Homo sapiens: one gene and its partner. The protein of the gene in region 1 purifies or fractionates together with the protein of each later gene. This does not show direct contact. Each region holds a gene or a part of one and is shown in the gene's direction. Other genes may lie near its edges.

What was found.
Region 2: the proteins of KLF12 (region 1) and B3GALNT2 purify together in Homo sapiens (affinity purification with mass spectrometry; one large-scale study listed by BioGRID and IntAct). This does not show direct contact.

Annotation. Positions count from the first base shown.
Region 1 is NC_000013.11:73,690,405-73,694,215, reverse strand, and holds part of KLF12 (Krueppel-like factor 12), read left to right. Parts: 3' UTR 1-3,811. UniProt on the Homo sapiens protein: Confers strong transcriptional repression to the AP-2-alpha gene. Binds to a regulatory element (A32) in the AP-2-alpha gene promoter.
Region 2 is NC_000001.11:235,501,571-235,506,143, reverse strand, and holds the start of B3GALNT2 (UDP-GalNAc:beta-1,3-N-acetylgalactosaminyltransferase 2), read left to right. Parts: upstream 1-1,691; 5' UTR 1,692-1,891; coding exon 1,892-2,003; intron 2,004-4,573. UniProt on the Homo sapiens protein: Beta-1,3-N-acetylgalactosaminyltransferase that synthesizes a unique carbohydrate structure, GalNAc-beta-1-3GlcNAc, on N- and O-glycans. Has no galactose nor galactosaminyl transferase activity toward any acceptor substrate.

The DNA of each region.
Region 1 (3,811 bases):
ATGGGTCAGTTCTCCTTGGAACTGAATCAGTGGAAAGAGAATGCTTCCCATAGAAAGCCCGACATGGTGCTAGTTTCCTCTCTTGGAGAGCCAAGGATAAGTGACTCTCCAATAGGTTCTTCTATACCGATTTCATTTTCTAAACTGTATCAGGACCCAGGTGTCCTGCATTGGCATCTGCAGGGATATTGAACCCACTCATCCTGTGCAGAGGATGAGAGGAAGGTGTTAGTTCCATCAGCCCCATAAAATTATGAACCTTTTTGCAACTAGGAACATATACAGTAAACAAGCAATACATCACCAACGAGCATTCTTTCAGAAAAATTACCATATTTTTGTCCCCACCACAAGCTGGGTTTTTTTCCAGCTTTCTGTGGCTGAGGGGCTGGTGAGATTTTTTGTTGTTATTGTTGTTGTTGCTAGAATTTTTTATAGCTTAGATATAAAAGGTCTCCAACAAAGACCTTTGCAATATATTTTAATTACAAACACTTGATTTTGGGAATTGCACATATTAACCTCACAATATTACTAGCTCATTTTTAAATGTCTGGACATTCTGAAATAATTTCCGGTTACAGAATTACCCTTTTTAGGATCATCTTCTAATTCAGATAATCTTATTCTGATGAAGCGAGAACTATGAACGTTGAAACAAGGACAATTTGTGTTGGATGGTATTCAAAAGGAATTTTTTAAAACATTAAGCAACAGTGTAATGATTTTCAGGTCAAATTATGGCTTCACAAATATGTGCTCTATATTGTCTGCCAGGTCTCAAAAATTCATCAAGCAATTTCCCTCCAACAAGGGCTGCAGTTCTAGTGATAAATAGCATCTTTAGCTGCACAGTCTACTACTCATCAACCAGTGGGTTTTTTTTAGCACCTGGAAAGTTTTTTTGTACTATATGCAACTCCTACTTCACATTGCCTGTGACCATTCAGAATAGAAAAAGGTCTGTTGATGCATGCCAGTGCTGGTTACTAGTCAGTGACAGAGAACACAGAGAGGGACAAACACAGCCATGAACCCCCTGGCACTAGTACCAGCACCTAGTTGGCAAGTAGTGGGTGCATCTCTCAAGTGAAGTGTAGATTTGTATTTAGTCCTGCTTGCTCTCATAAAAAGAGCCAGTTCTTTTCTCTGCTGAAAGATGTCTTGAGAGTATTACAGGTAGACTTGGTTTTTAGAATTCATAAAACTGACAGGCAGGGGAATCTTCCTGAGTGACAGCTTGGTTTAAATTTAGCACAGAACTAGATGAGTTGCACTTTTCTAATAACATAGGATGGATTTGGGGAAGGGAACATTTTCCCTCATCCTCTGAAAGTGGAAACCAGACTGAGATGGTAAGTTAACTGATAAAACCTGTCAGCATTCCATCATTTTCCCCTTTTGACGTATCAGTACTTCTAAGAAGGGATCTAAGCACAATTAAGTGAATTGAGTCCCTGGTCTAGCCTCAGGAACTGAAACTTCTTTGGGGCTTGTCTTGAGACGTGGCAAATTCTCCTTGGTGAGTTTTCTAAAAGTATTTCCCCATGGAAAGGAGAAAGTGGTTTGGGACAGAAAGAAATGGAATGTCTTCAGTCATGGAAGAGCCTCCATTTCATCTCATGTCCATTTCTAGCCTCTTTCAAAAAGCACAGTGCATCATGAGCAACAGAAAAGCAGTAGAATCCTAAAGGACATAACAGTTGTTCCGTAACTAGAAGCATTCTTTGATTTTAAATTTGAAGCTGTTCAGTTTGCAGCTGGGGATATGTGCATGGTTGGGAACTTATACACATAGAGCCATTAACTACTTAAGCAGCTGCAGTAGACCTGATTTTCTGTTTGCAGTATAGAGATTGATTTCAAGGGAGTTACATTATTTGAAAAGTTATGACTTTCAGCCTTTGAGGTTTTAAGAATCCCTTTTCATGGTCTGATCTTAAGTTGTTTGAAAAAAGATTCACGCTTCTGCATCCACCTCTGCCCTCATTCTGTCAATTGTGTGTGGACTCTGAGAAGCCTGCTTGATAACTTGTCTTAAGTTCTATTAAGGCAGTTAGACTGAGATTTCTAATGACTTCACCATAAAGATTATACTTCTGCCTGGCGTCGTTTCTATAAAACACTATAGGACATTTGTTTTCAAAAGCAGTTGAGTAACAGCAACATAAACCACATTTTTTAAAAAAATGAGCACTTTTCATTCACTTGAAAGCTTAAGTGGGAAAAAGGAAGATGATTGTCAGGGGAAAAACTTACAAAATGCTACAGTGTTTACAAATGCCAGTTCCAGGTGATTAGAAAGGCCGTTTTCATTATGGTTCAGATTTGGAATAGCTTATGCAAAGATTGTGTTCATTTTTATACAATTCTTTTTAACTTTAAATTGCCATCTGTGTTTTAAACATAATTCTGCACTTTGGAATCAGTTCATTAGAATGATAACATTTATATGGATAAAGATGCAGTATTCCTTATTCTGTACTTGATTTATTATACTTACCAAAGCTGCAACTGAATAAATCTGGTGAGGTGAGGCCTTCAAAATGTATTAATACGCCTTTGTTATGTTGTTATGACTGCTTAGAAATGTAGCCATGATGTTGTTCTAAAGATGTCTTAACATTTATAGTGAGGATTGACAGAAATTAAGCAGTGTTAAGAATACCAGCATCCATGTTACAGTCTGCGTATAAGGGACTGAATGTGAGGTAACTCTTATGAATCATAATAGGCCCAGAAAGCCTTAATATTCATAGTTCATAATCCAGTCTCAGATTTTGCTCTTCAATGTTGCCTGTAAACTTAGCAGGTAAATGTATTCTAGTATAAAACATCATTGACCAAATCTCTTCCTTTAGTTTTTCTGAGGTAGTGCATCCCATTAAAAAAGTCTCTTCAATTAGATTTGGCTTTAGTTTAGAAAGGGGTTTGGTAAGTCATGTCTTCCATATGACATTTCTACTCATCCCCACACTGCCTTCCACTTAACCTGTACAGACAGCCCCAACACATGCACATGTGTGTACACAACTGTATATGCAGCAGCCAGTGGGCTAACAAATATCAGCAAAGAACTTTTTTAAAAAGAATTTGTAATAATCCGTGCTGTCTAGAAATGTGAGTTACTTACCTTATTAGGAAACCGGCTTATAATACTATATATGACTCTGCCTGCATTTTATAGTTAAGAAATGTACATAAAAATTGCTATATTTTCACAGTTTCATTATAATGTCTGTTTAGTAACCCATGTCCACTGATACTTTAAATATGCTAATTACTGAGCAATTGCAATAGAAATCCAGATTTTCATAAGAAAATGAAATAGAAGGATACTGCATCTTTAAAAAATAGAGTGAAGATATTTTACTGTATTCGTAACATATGTGATAGTGGAAAAAGTATTTTCAAACTCACAAATTTTACAGAGGTTGTAAATAGTTTGATGAAGTATGTTGGGAAAGAGAGCTTCTAGTTTTCATCACAATAAAAAGAAAAAACTTGTTCAGATATGCCTTGTATATCTTACACACAATGAGTGAAATTGCCATGGGAACTCTGTCCAACTTTGTCAGAGCATGCTCTTCGTGTTCTGTTCAAAATAGAGTGGCCACTTGTCATGGTTTAGCCAGGATGGTTTAAAATATAATGAAGTCATTTTAAGTTGCAGACAACTGATTCCAAACTAGTAATGTCTTTTCCTGAAAAGGGCAAAACAGCTGCACAGGATTTTGCTTGTACTAAAGAGGAGCATCTTACAATTGTTCTCTTTTCTCAGTTATCTCCCTCCTCAACAGAGTGTGAACAA
Region 2 (4,573 bases), on another chromosome or scaffold:
CTTTCTTGCCTTTTCTTTTTATTTTTTTTTTGTTTGTTTGTTTGTTTTTGAGACAGAGTCTCGTTCTGTCACCCAGGCTGGAGTGCAATGGCGCGATCTCGGCTCACTGCAACCTCCGCCTCCTGGGTTCAAGCGATCCTCCTGCCTCAGCCTCCTGAGTAGCTGGGACTACAGGTGCCCACCACTACGCCAGACTAATTTTTGTATTTTTAGTAGAGACAGGGTTTCACCATGTTACCCAGGCTAGTCTCGAACTCCTGCCCTCAAGTGATCCGCCCACCTCGGCCTCCCAAAGTGCTGGGATTACACGCATGAGCCACGGCGAGCCAAAGTACTTTTTTCCCTTAAGCCTGTTTGAGTTGGGTCTTCTGTCATCCAAGACTTTTTTTCAATAATACAGTCACCTTCTGTTTCCACACTTGTGGAAACTTAAAAAAAAAAAAAAAAAAACCGCGGCCGAGCGCGGTGGCTCACGCCTGTAATCCAAGCATTTTGGGAGGCCGAGGCGGGCGGATCACCTGAGGTCAGGAGCTGGAGACCAGCCTGGCCAACATGGCGAAACCTCGTCTCTACAAAAAAAATACAAAAATTAGCTGGGCGCAGTGGCGGGCGCCTGTAATCCCAGCCACTCAGGAGGCTGAGGCAGGAGAATCGCTTGAACCCAGGAGGCGGAGGTTGCAGCGAGCCGAGATCGCGCCATTGCACTACAGCTTGGGTGACAGAGTGAGACTCCGTCTCAAAAACAAAAGCAGAAACAAAAACCGCCCCATAGCCCAGCCGCTCGTTCTCATCCTTCTCTCCCATCCTCACCCCAGTGCCTTCACCGCCCCGTCCCCGCTTTCCGGCTGCCTCGGCGCGGGCCTGGTGGGCCAGGAGGGCTCCCACCCGGGGCAAAGCCTCAAGACGCGGGGCCGGCGTTCTCCCTGGAAGGCTCGCTGCGGCCACCCTTCCCCAGGTCCCCGGAGCCCACGTTCTCCCAGCTCGCCCGGCTCCCGTTTCGCTCCCAGCTCCAGTATGAACCCGGAGCACGTGCAGTTCTACCCTGATTGGCTCGTCATCATCGTGTTCCACAGCCTAGTCCCCAGCTCGCTGTCTGTCACCCTGCGTTCCCAGAGCACAGAACCGGGCAAAGAGCCGGGAACCCACGGCACCAGAGCTAATCCCTGATGAGTCACCGCTCCAGGCGCGGACACTCGGGCTTCCTCGCCCCACTCTACGGGCCAAGGAGACGTCAGCAGGATCCCACCTCCCACAGCAGTCGAGCAAGAGAGCACGCGGAACAAAGGAGCTCTGCGTGATTTCACACAAGAGCCACTCGGATTTCCTTCAAATCTGAGGCAAAGCGCATTTCCCTTCGCGGCTCCGGGCAGCCTCCGAGCACCGGGTCTCCGGCACTACCTCCCCTGGGCCGTGGGGTGGCAGCAAACGTCAAGGGGGATGCGCATGCTCTGTGTGGGGCCTCGCCCTTCGCCCCCGCGGCCGCCGAGTGACGGAAGCGCGTGCTTAGGCTCATGGGAAATGTGGTTTCTAAACCGCGGGCGCCCCCTGCCTGGGCCCAGAGCGGGACTTCAGCTCCCGGCCGGCTGGCTGGCGCGTGTGGAAACGCGGGAGGAGAGGGCGGGGCGAGTGGGAGAAAAGGTGGGCGGAGCCGGTGGGAAGGCCAGGCGGAGGGGGCGGGGCTTCGGCCGGCTAAGCCGCGGCCACCCGCGGTCTGAGGGACCGGAGGAGCGGGGCCGGGAGCTGCGAGGAGCCCCCCAGACGTCGCCGAGCGCGAGGGCGGGCGTGCTCGGAGTGGTCGCTCGTCAGCCGCCGCCCCTCAGTCTCCGCACTTGCAGGTCCCCTCCCTCTCCGCCGGGACGCGGGAGAGCCCGGCTCGCGGCGGGGGCGGCCAATGCGAAACTGGCTGGTGCTGCTGTGCCCGTGTGTGCTCGGGGCCGCGCTGCACCTCTGGCTGCGGCTGCGCTCCCCGCCGCCCGCCTGCGCCTCCGGGGCCGGCCCTGCAGGTGAGGTCCTGGGGCCGGGCGGGTTGGCGGCCGCCGGGGGGGTGGGAGGCCCGGCTTGGTGCCGCGGGGCTTCGCCGGGAATTGTTGGAGGCGGGGGAAGGGCCAAACGCGACGGTCCCCAGACGAAACAAACGGCTCTTTTCATCCTTGGAGCGTTAACATCGGGCAAACTTGAGGGAGCTTTTCTCTTTTCGTGTCCCCGCCTCTTCTCACTTCCCCGTTTCCCTTAACGCCCGCAGAGCCGGCGCCCGCAGTTGCAAGTCCTTCGCCTGTCCCCAGGCCTGGTTAGTGATGTCCGACGCCGCCCGTTCGCCCGGGAGCGGAACCTCGTGTGCCCTTCAGCCGCCAGCGCTTTCTGCTTTGGGAGCTCTGGCTCTGAAGTTGTTTTCTTCCCCCCCAAGTTGTTGGTCTTTCTCGGTCAAGACTGGGGTTTTAGTGCCGTGGATAATGTGTGTGCGTGTTTTCAAAGGTGGCTCGGTTTTGCTTTTAAGGAATAACTTTGCTGTAAGAATATACTGTAGTTCGTATTCTTGGATTATGATGTAAGTCGGTTAAACAAATCTAGACATGAAATAGGGCATGGCCGAGAGTTGGAGTTGTTCCTGTGAGTTTGGATCGCATAACCTGCTAATGCAGTTTACATGGAAATATCAAATTCTTTAACGATCGTGTCCATTTGCTCTAAAACTTAATCTCTCGTAGGAATGAAACCTTTGTTCTTGTTTCGCGTCACAGCCTAATAGAATGCTTTACTTACGGTGCCCAGCGGATTGTTTTGTTAGTGGGTTCCACCACCCTGAACACTACTTTAGCTTTCCCTGTATCTCTTGTCTTCTTCTTTAAGGGCTTGCCCTAGAACATGAAAGAAACCTAGAAAGCTCTTTTAAATATTATGTAATACTTAATTTTGTAACTATACTGGGACTTTTTTCCCTTACCATCTCTCCCCAAAACAGCTGTTTTCTAATCCAAAAGTTCTTAAAATTAGAATTGAGTGTTTGCAGTTCAGCACTCTATGCCTTATAAGTAGAAAGTATTCGGCAATCCTCAAAACAGTCTCAGTTATATGAAATTATGTTGAGGTTATTTTGGTAACAATCTCTTTTCCTATTAGATCACTAGCTCTTTGAAAAGGATTTGTGTGACCTGAATAGAATTAAACACTATTTAAGTGATTTAATGAAAGTACAGTGTTGCTATGCACTTAACCAGTTGATGGGGTCAGGGTTTTGCTCAGTGTTTTTTAGGTTTTTGTGAAGTGAACTAAGAAGAGAACGCCATATATAAAAAATGCTTTGTAACAGCTGCTTGTGTGTTACAGGTTTCTCTCTTTTGTTATGAGTGAGCCCTGCTGGAATCTCCTTGTAGAGCGTCATTAAGTCTGTTTATGGCCTTAATGGTTGTTTAGGGTTCAGTAAAACAAACAAAAACTGAAATGTTAGTAGACTTCAAACTGAAATCTTAGTAGACTTGCTAGGCAGTTTTCTAGTTTGAGACAAGTTTTTCCTACTCCCTTACTGCACTTGAAGGATGATGCCTTTATCTGCCATCCAGTAGTTAGACCAGGCTAGATTAAGGAAATGAAGAAGTAGACCATAGAAAGGAACAGGGTAATAACGTAGGTAAGAAGATCAATACTAGTTATGTTAATTAACTTTGGCTTTGAATGAGTACTGTGTATCTGGTCAGATAATAAATGGGATTTTTTTTTAAGTTCCGGGATACGTGTGCAGGACGTGCAAGTTTGTTACATAGGTAAACGTGTGCCATGGTGGTTTGCTGCAGCTGTCAACCATCGATATTTTAATAATCTAAGTTAAACATGACTGGCCCGGCGCGGTGCCTCACGCCTGTAATCCCAACACTTTGGGAGGCCGTGGTGGGTGGATCACCTGAGGTCAGGAGTTCAAGACCAGCCTGGCCAACATGGCGAAACCCCGTCTCTACTAAAAATACAAAAATTAGCCGGGCATAGTGGTGCATGCCTGTAATCCCAGCTACTAAGGAGGCTGAGGCAGGAGAATCACTTGAACCTCGGAGGCGGAGGTTGCAGTGAGACGAGATTGCGCCACTGCACTCCAGCCTGGGTGACAAGAGCGAAAGTCCATCTCAAAATAATTAATTAATTAATTAAACAAGACTGACTCCTACCTTTCCTTTTTTCCTTTTGGTACTTTCAAAGCTAAAAGCAGTGGAAGCATCTTAAATGCTAAAATTTCCCATAATTCCTTTACCATTGTGCTGTCACCATGTTGAAACTAAAATAGTTGGGTGTTTTTACATTTTAACCCTTGTACTTTAAGCCTAACAGGAGAAAAAAAAACCCAAGATTTTGCTAAGTATTCTTTTCTTGAATTAACATTTTTAAATGTATTTTTTTTTCTCTTCTGCTGCTTTGTCTGTCTTCAGTCTCATTAAGTAATGGCAGTTTCTTTGTTTTTTTTGAAAGAGCGATTTACCTTCCCTGAATATTAAAAAAGGTTCTTTGGCTCGCAGTTGATTCAGCAAATATTTGAGAGCCTACTCTGTGCCAGCTCCTATCGTAGGTGTGGAATTACAGCAGTAATCAA